2 separate regions of the Homo sapiens genome follow, and region 2 is linked to region 1. Evidence: fine-mapped QTL for protein levels in blood plasma. Region 1 holds a variant in brackets. A gene starts in the other region. All regions are shown on their forward strands.

What was found. PIP is the posterior inclusion probability: the model's chance that the variant is causal. The UK Biobank Pharma Proteomics Project read protein levels with antibody pairs (Olink). The fine-mapping took linkage between variants from a reference panel, not from the people measured, so its PIPs are less certain.
Region 2: VNN1 starts here. The variant in region 1 is fine-mapped to the plasma level of the VNN1 protein (UK Biobank, PIP 0.97).

Annotation. Positions count from the first base shown.
Region 1 is chr15:58,392,889-58,397,285 of GRCh38, forward strand. No RefSeq gene overlaps it. Among named protein-coding and RNA genes, the nearest start is that of LIPC, 37 kb to the right of the region's middle. The variant T/C (reference allele first, on the strand shown) is at 2,516.
Region 2 is chr6:132,712,017-132,716,413 of GRCh38, forward strand. It overlaps VNN1 (vanin 1), which reads right to left and starts at 2,039. Exons shown (of 7, transcript NM_004666.3): 1 at 1,810-2,039. The coding sequence starts at 2,019.

The sequences.
Region 1 (4,397 bases):
GGTGGGGAGAGGGGAAGCGGGGAGTTAGAGTAGTATTTTTAGGTCACAGGGCTGCCTTTGGGGAAAGGGGGTTCTGGTTTCTAGGACCTGCCTTGGGGAAGAAGCTAGTTTCTATATCTAGCCTTGGTGGAGAAGGAGACTAAGAGACAGGAGAGCAGAAGATCAAAAAAAAACTTTTGCTTCTGAGCTCTTCATTGTGGGGTATCACCAACATTAGCAAGCCCCTTTCAGGACTTTCCCAACTCTTTTCAATAGCCTGTTTTCACAGATCTCTCAAAACTCAAGGATTTCAATGTCACTATTCAAGCTGAAAACATTTTCCCCTGCAACCTCCTTGTTAAATCTGTAGTTTGGACAAGGAAGCAATAAAGCAAGCATGTGCAGGCTGCTGCTTTGAGTAGCCAGCTGAGAAATGATTCCCACTAGGGTGGGTGTGGGTGTGTGTGAGTGTGTGTGTGTGTGTGTGTGTGTGCGTTGTAGGGAGAGAAAAAATGCAATGTACACAGCAGGATGACCCACAGATTCTGAGAACACAGTGTCAGTCTGCAGAAGGCAGGCACTTTTACACTTCTGAGCAATCAGCACCTTTATGTGCAATTTATTTCCAGTTTTAAAAAAAATGAGGTGGGTGGTTCCTCCGTCAAAGTTACCTCCCTGACTTTTAACGGCTCATTAAACGGGAAAGGATTGAGAGGATCCTTAATGGTGAATGGGGCTGGAGGCTCGGCCACTGAAAAGGACTGGGTAGACTGAACCTAGAAAGGAGAAGCTAATAGGGCCCAGAGTGGCTGCCTTCAAATATCTGCAGGGCTGACAGTGTGGACAGGAATTAAATATGCTATGTGTAGGAGCAAGTTGCAGAGAGCAGGTTTCAGTGCAACATACCAAATGTTTTTCTGCTACTTAGAATAGTCTAAAAATATAATCCCCTGTCAAGGAGTAGTGAGTTTCCCATCATTAGAGTTATGCAAGCAGAGGCTGCATGACCATTTTGCAGGGATGTAGTAATTATTTCAAACATTAAAGCCATTTCCAATTATATAGTTCCCAAATTTAAAACTTCCATTGCCTATTTGGACATAAGGGGTAGATTCAGCTTATTTGCTTTGCCTTCTGCAGGCTTGACTCCATACCAGTGATAGAAAGAGTTTCCATCTCCAAGGTGAGCTCCTGTCGATTGTTACTGGATGACTGGACCACTATGTGGAGGTTTCCGAGGCTATGAAATGTGATCGATTAGTGATGCTAAGGACAAAAGGAAAGAGCAAAGGAGGCCCACTTTTCATGTGTATTGTATATGCAGCAGCTATATATAGTTTAGGATAAGATTTTTAAAACATTTTAAATCTAATTTCCCTTCTCGATAAGCAAAATTCTTTCCTTTCCACCATTACGGTTAGGGCATGAGACTTATTGCCTCAGGGAAGGGGCAGCTGGATCTCCCTAGAAAAAGGAGACTATGGGGTAAGGAAGAAAGATATAATGTAGGGCAATTTCCAGCAGACAGAAGGGTAAGTAGCAGCCCTTCTTCAGAGAAAGTGAAGAGGACCGGAGAGGGTGAAATGGGAAGAAGGAGCTTCCAGAGACCTCCCTGCCCTGCCTCCGAGCCTCACTCAGGGCAGGGAGTAAGGACAGATGGAAATCTGGGGTAGGATGAAGGGAAAGACGAACACCAAGGAGGATCCACAGTGCTTCTTGTTTGGCCATCTCATGCTGCCCTACGCCAACCACACAAGGCAGCCACAGCAGGTCAGAATGACAGGGTGGTGTGTGTGAGAGAAGAGGGCCACAGCAGGGGTCCAGAACATCTCTGTTCACAGGTGGTGTGGAAGTGTCTGGAGTTCTCAAATGTGCTAGTGAGGGATACAGAGTTGAGAGCAAGGGGCTGGGCTTGAGTGGCCATTGTGAGTCGCCAAGTGACACAGTTGATTGCCAGAGGTTCTATAAGGCCATTGAGGTCAGAGATGGACATCACATCAACAAGGAAGCCACCAAGCCCGGAAGGTGCTAAAAGAGCACACCCAGGGGACCCCACCATGAATGTGTCAGTAGCAGGTGCACAAGGACAGAGGCCATGGCCAGAAAGAGTCCCGCTGGAGGTCAGAGGAAGCTGGGACACACAGCACTCTCACCAGGAACCTCTCCCTGAAGCAGAGAGGATGCAGAAGCTTCTCTTGTTTGAAGGCACTGAGGAATGTCAGAGGGAGGGGAGACCCTCTGAAATCACCCACAGGGAGTCTGAACTTCAAATTGACTAATTGCTACAAAGGCCATTTTAACCCAGAAAAGACTGAGTTGTTTTTAATTCACAAGTATAAGTCATAGTGTGTGGCATGATGGAAGTGGAACTGACCTTTCCAAATCTGAGTATGGCCACGGCAGCATCTCCACCGTCTCCCTCACACACACATGCTGTAAGTTCATGTGCAGTCAATCATGAGCGCCTGTCAAGGTGTAGCTAGAGCAGAAAGATCTGGAAGCCTTCTTGAAAGCAGAAGGAAAGAAGGAAGACGAT[T/C]AGGTGGGCGAGAGCATTGGGGGTGTGGTAGGAAAGAAAAAGAGGGAGAAATCCACCTGAAGGATAGCAATAACTAACACTATCGAATGTTTCTCACATAGCAGGCACTTTGCATCCTCATAACTCCAAGTGTGGCCTGGAGACCAGCAGGCATCACCCAGAGCTTGTTAGAAATACAGAATGTCAGCTTACTCCCTAGACCTACTGACTAAGAACCTGCGTTTTAATGTGATCCCAGGTGACTTGTGTGCTTGTTAGAGTTTGAGAGGTGCTACATTACATGATTTAATGTCATTAGTTTAATTCAACAATTCTATCCATTCAAAATGATTTTCTCATTTTGCAGATGAGGAAGCTGAGATCCAGCCAAGTTCACATATCTAGTAAGTGACAGAACCTAGATACCAACCCAAGCATCCTGACTCCAGAGCCTTCTTCGCTGTACCAAAGGCTTAGGTCACTCCACTTGTTTGTTTCTGGTCAAACATGTGTTGACAATTGTGTGGATGCACACCTAGAATGTTTTGGAAAGATCTGTGAAAATATGGCAGTGACAAGATTTCCTTTTCCAATATGTTTTCCAAAGTAAAACACCAGACATTCATGATTCAACCCATGTCTGGGATTCTGCACGATCAAGTGCCCTCAGTATTTTAAGCTTTTGGATAATTCATAGCTATCATGTCTAAATTGTTCTGCTTGTTCTAAATTTGCCCTGCATGTGTACCTTTCAAGATAAGTTCTTTCAGCTGATAAACTCCTGTTTTTAAATGCAAATGTGTTTTGAAATGTATCTGTTCCATCATTTCTCCCTCAAAATCATACTATAGCTGAATTACTCAAAAGGAATTCTAGCAAAGCACACAACATTTTCGAGCATAAGCCTGTGATGCTTTTCATCTAAAAAGGTGACTAACAGCTTGCATAAGCTTATAACCAGACTTAAAGCTTAAAATCCCTGTGGAGTTTGCAAAGGGCATTGCGAAAGCCAGCCAAACCTGGGAGACATAAATGTCTTTGCATGCTGACTTATCTACCAGTCACGAAACCAGTCTGGTTTAAAATTGCTGTTATTCATTTCAGCTCCACAACCTTTATTTTCATGACAGTGAGTTGAAATAGCACTCTTACCTCTGTTAAGAAAAACAAGAAATGACTTCTATCTAACAAATGTTAATTAGGGCACACGATGTGGTGGAAAGAGTCATGAAGTGAGATGAAACCTGTGCACTGATATGTGGCATCGGGTGGGTAATTATAAACATACACTTGAAAAAAAAATGAATGACATGGAGTCCCGGGTCCAGAATTAACCAGTTTTGTGGCCCTGGGGGAAGACACTCTCCTCTCTAAGTTCATTTTCCTTGGACTCAGTGATTTCCTAAGATTCCTTCTCACTTCGCAGTCTCAAATTTAAAATCAGATCTTAATTATGTACTAAGTAAATATAGCATACTTAATTTGAAGGATGGCATACTGATAAAGATAGTTAAGAAGATGACAAGGCAGCATGGAAATTAGTCGTTACATAATACAGAACACAAAATGTTGTTTATGATCTCCAAAACTACGTAAGATGCTGCATGCATTTGAACAAAAGCTGAAAGGAAAGAGCGGGCAAAGAAAACAGAGTGAGATCACAGGTGGGTCACCTTTCCTTATATTTTGATGCCACTATTTGCTTTTTGTTTTATGTTTAAAAGCGATACTTTTAGGGAAGCATTTCTTCATGTTTTATGGAAGAACTGTTTGCCTGGCAGTTTGCTGTCATTTATTTTCTCAGCTTCCAAAATAGTGTTAGCCAGGTTGATCTCGTTGCTATTTATGGACTGTGTTACCTTCCAGAGCTCAATATTGTTTCCAAAGTTGTCACAGCAAGGCA
Region 2 (4,397 bases), not on the chromosome of region 1:
TGTCACTTCTTTTTCTTTTTCTTTTCTTTTCTTTATTTCTAATTTTAGATTCAAAGGGTACAAATGCAGGTTTGTTGCATGGATATGTTACATAATGGTGAGGTTTGGGCTTCTAGTCAAGCATTTTTTTTTCTCTCTTTTTTTTTTTTTTCAGATGGAGTTTCGCTCTGCTGCCCAGGCTGGAGTGCAATGGCTAGATCTCGGCTTACCACAATCTCCACCTCCCGGGTTCAAGCGATTCTCCCGCCTCAGCCTCATAAGTAGCTAGGATCACAGGCATCTGCCACCACGCCTGGCTAATTTTTGTATTTTTAGTAGAGATGGGGTTTCTCCATATTGGTCAGGATGGTCTTGAACTCCCAACCTCAGGTGATCCGCCTGCTTCAGCCTCCCAAAGTGTTGGAATTACAGACATGAGCCACCGCACCTGGCTTAGTCAAGCATTTTAATTTTCTAATCCTGCCATTGTTGTTTCCTATGGCAGTCGTTAACTATAAACCTAGCTTATCCTGGAACCAAGCCTCTCCTTGAACTTTCGCTGATGACTGTGCCTGTGTCAAGACTGATTAATAACTTAAATATTCTGTTTATTTCCTCCTCTGCCCTAGCTTTCCCCTGCAAACATGATTCCTGCTTCTCAGAAAAAGAGGAGCCACAAACTGGTTACTTGAACTGTCCCATGCCTACAAGTACTGCCTGAGCTAACCTGGGCACCTTCCAATTAGAGAGTCACCTTAAAAAGCTCTGTGACCTTCAAGGAAATAGTTGGACTAAGGATGAAAAAGAACATCAGAACTCCTGATAACCTTTTAAATATTAGTATATATAAGAATATAGGGCAGTCACGGTAGCTCATGCCTGTAATCCCAGCACTTTGGGAGCCCAAGGCAGGTGGATCACCTGAGGTCAGGAGTTCAAGTACAGCGTGGGCAACATGGCAAAATCCCATCTCTACAAAAAATACAAAACTTAGCTGGGCACGGTGGCATGCATCTGTGGTCCCAGCTACTCTGGAGACTGTAGTGGGAGAATCACCTGAGCCCGGGAAGTCAAGGCTGCAGTGAGACGTGATCACACCACTATACTCCATCCTGGGTGACAGAGTGAGACCTTAACTCAACAACACAAAAGAATATATATTTATAGATATATGTAATACACATTTATCCATGACTTTTATCACACTTCATGTATTCCTGGTCTACACCTAATCGATCAATAGCTTTTAAAATAATATTTGTGTAAACCACAATTTATACTGTATGATTAACTTCAAACTGAAACCTTCACTAAACTTAAGGACTCACAATGCATTACATATACTTTTATCTTGTAATTAGAATGAAGTGTGAAGTATATAATGCATGCTGGCAAGGAATTGAAAACTTAAATTTGTTTTCAGATTATAAATTTATTCGAAAACCTGCAAAGCCTTAATAGCACATGAGTACATGAAGGCCACTAATACTCTGAAAATAGCACCTAGTCCCTGACCCATTTATCCTCCATCCTCCATCTGTACCAGAAAAGGGGAACAAAGATGTTGAATTTATGGCCAGTTCCTCAAAGGTCTGCTGCTTCTTGATAATGAGCAAATTGTTCTTTTCTTAACTTTGTTCTTACTTTTAGGGAAGTCCTTGCTCTAATTTTGAGAGGAAAGTAGAATTCTAACTGTAAAATAAAGGTTCTTGGCTACTCTGATACATATATCATCTAAAAGTGTAACTGACCCTGACAGTGGCCCTGTCTCCTAGGACCCCCTCCTTTCTCATAGAATCCAGTACACTGGAGAGATGGTAGAGATGGTACCTGATCTGCTGCTGATGTGATCGCTCCTTCCAAAATGTCCAGATTCCGATTCATTAATGCCAAAGCCTCCTCACGAGACACTGGTGTTAGGGTGGCATTGGGCAATATCGCTGCATGCTCATAAACAGCTGCAGTGAAAGTGTCCTGGCAGCTGGCTCTTGAGACATAGAAAAGCAAAATTGCCACGTAAGCTGGCAACTGAGTAGTCATGCTGAAGTCCAATGAGTGCTGAAAAACAGAGCATGTCCTGGTATTTATAGAAAGAAGACACGTGGTGTCCAGAACTTAGTACCTTAAACTACGGAAGTTAATTAAGAAAACGCTATGATTTCATAGCATTGTTACATAACAAAAGACCCTACCTTATTGCAGTAATTTGTGAAGATTAACTCAAGAACTCTATGTACATTAGTTCGCTAGGGCTGCCTAACAAAATACAATAAACTGGGTGGTGTAAAAAATAAAAAATTTATTGCTTTGCAGTTCTGGAGGGTGGGAGTCCCAGATGAAGGTGTCAGCAGAGTTGGTTCCTCCTGAGGGCGGTGAAGGAAAGATGTGTTCCAGGCCTCTCTCCTTGACCCATAGATGGCTGCCTTCTCCCTGTGTCTCTTCATATGCTATTCTCCCCATGTGTGTGCCTGTATCCAAGTTTTCCCTTTTTGTGAGGACACCACTCTAATCTTTAACACAGGGAAAGGGAAAATCCCAGCTCTAGCTTTTTTTGTCATCGTTGTTGTTTGTTTATTGTTGTTGTTGTTTGAGATGGAGTTTCACTCTTGTCACCCAGGCTAGAGTGCAGTGGCGAAATCTCGGCTCACTGCAACCTCCGCCTCTCGGGTTCATGTGATTCTCCTGCCTCAGCCTCCCAAGTAGCTGGGATTACAGGCGCCCGCCACCACGCCAGGCTAATTTTTTGTATTTTTAGTAGAGATAGGGTTTCGCCGTGTTGGGCAGGCTGGTCTCAAATTGCTGACCTCAGGTGATCCACCTGCTTTGTTTTTATGCCAAATAAGGGCAGAAGAAAAAAGCCAACTGAAGGTCATAAACCCAGGGGTACAGGCTCACTGAAAGACTGAGACTCAATCATAGGACCAATTCGATTTAGTGCCCACTGTACTCCAGTATAACTTCATCTTAACTAATTAGATCTGAAATGACCCCTTTTCCAAAAAAGTTACATTCTAAGATACTGACAGTTAGGACTTCAACATATAAATTTTTGGAATTCATATATTTTGGAATGTCAACACAAGACATTCAAATAATTTTAAAACTTTATTATTATTTTCATGTGAATATTTCAGCTCTACACTTTGATTTACTTTATTTTCCTCAAAATGGGGAAGCCAGGACAAAGAGGAATACAAAAGAGTTACTCATTTTCTATTGCTATATAACAAATTATCCCCAAATTCAGCAGCTTCAAAAAGCAAAAATACATCATCTCCCACTTTCTCTGGGTCAGGAATCCAGGGGCAGTTTAGCTGGTGCCTCTGGCCCAAGGTCTCTTTCACAAGGCTGCAGTCAAGCAGCTGCCAGGGCTAGCTATATCAAGGCTTGACTCCAGGAGGATTCACTTCCGAGCTCCAAGCTCCCTCATGTGGCTGACGGCAGGGATCAAGACCTCATTGGTTGTTGCCCAGAGACATGAGTTCCTAGTGATGCAAACCTCACCATAGGGCAGCCCGCATTATGGTATCTGGATTCCCTTAGAGCCAGACAGCAAGTGAACCCACTGGAGATGGAAGCCACGGATGCTTCGTAATGTAATTGGGGAAGCAACACCTCATCGCTTTTGTTGTATTCTATCCAATAAAGCATTAGGAACCATCTTTGAAGCTGCTTATCACAGAGGCAACAGAGGTGTATAAAGAATCAGAGCAAAAAAAAGAAAAAATGAGCTGGGGAGCGAGATCCAGAGAGAGGAGAGGGAAATTATATAAAATAGAAAAACTGTTCATAGATTTTGATATTGAGTAAGCTGGCAAATTTTGTTTCAGTTGTGCATTAAGTATAATATTTACAGAATTAGTGTTTATGTTTTTCCATTTTATTTTTAGATCTATTTGTCTTTGAATGGTATTTTTATAGTTCAATCTGCAAACAGGCATATCTAATTTTTTACTTTAGTAACTATAATGCATTTATTCTGCAATTGCCAAGGTAACCCAGGGGTTGTGGTTGGCTGGTTCTCCTGAGTTTCCGGTAAACACCAGCTTCTCTAACTGCTTGCTGACCTCTTAGGGCCTTTCCATGCCCAGGTGGGTGGGAATACCACATATTTCACAAAAAGATGTCATTATTATGTAACAATTTGTAAAAGGAAGCACTGAAATAAAAGTTAAAACTGAGATGAGTTGGCAAGAGGTTAAAAAATTACTTCTTGACCTTCTTAGATTAAAAATATTAAACCTCCCGTGGAGTTTCTAGTCCAACTCATAAAGAGCTTGGCAGTCATTTTTCCCATGCTCACACCAAGAAAAAAGCTAAACAAATGAAAATCGACAACTTTTCTAGGATGCATCAGAGAATTGAGATCACAGGATAAACTGCGGTCCTCAGAACTGCAGAGATAGGCAGATACAGAG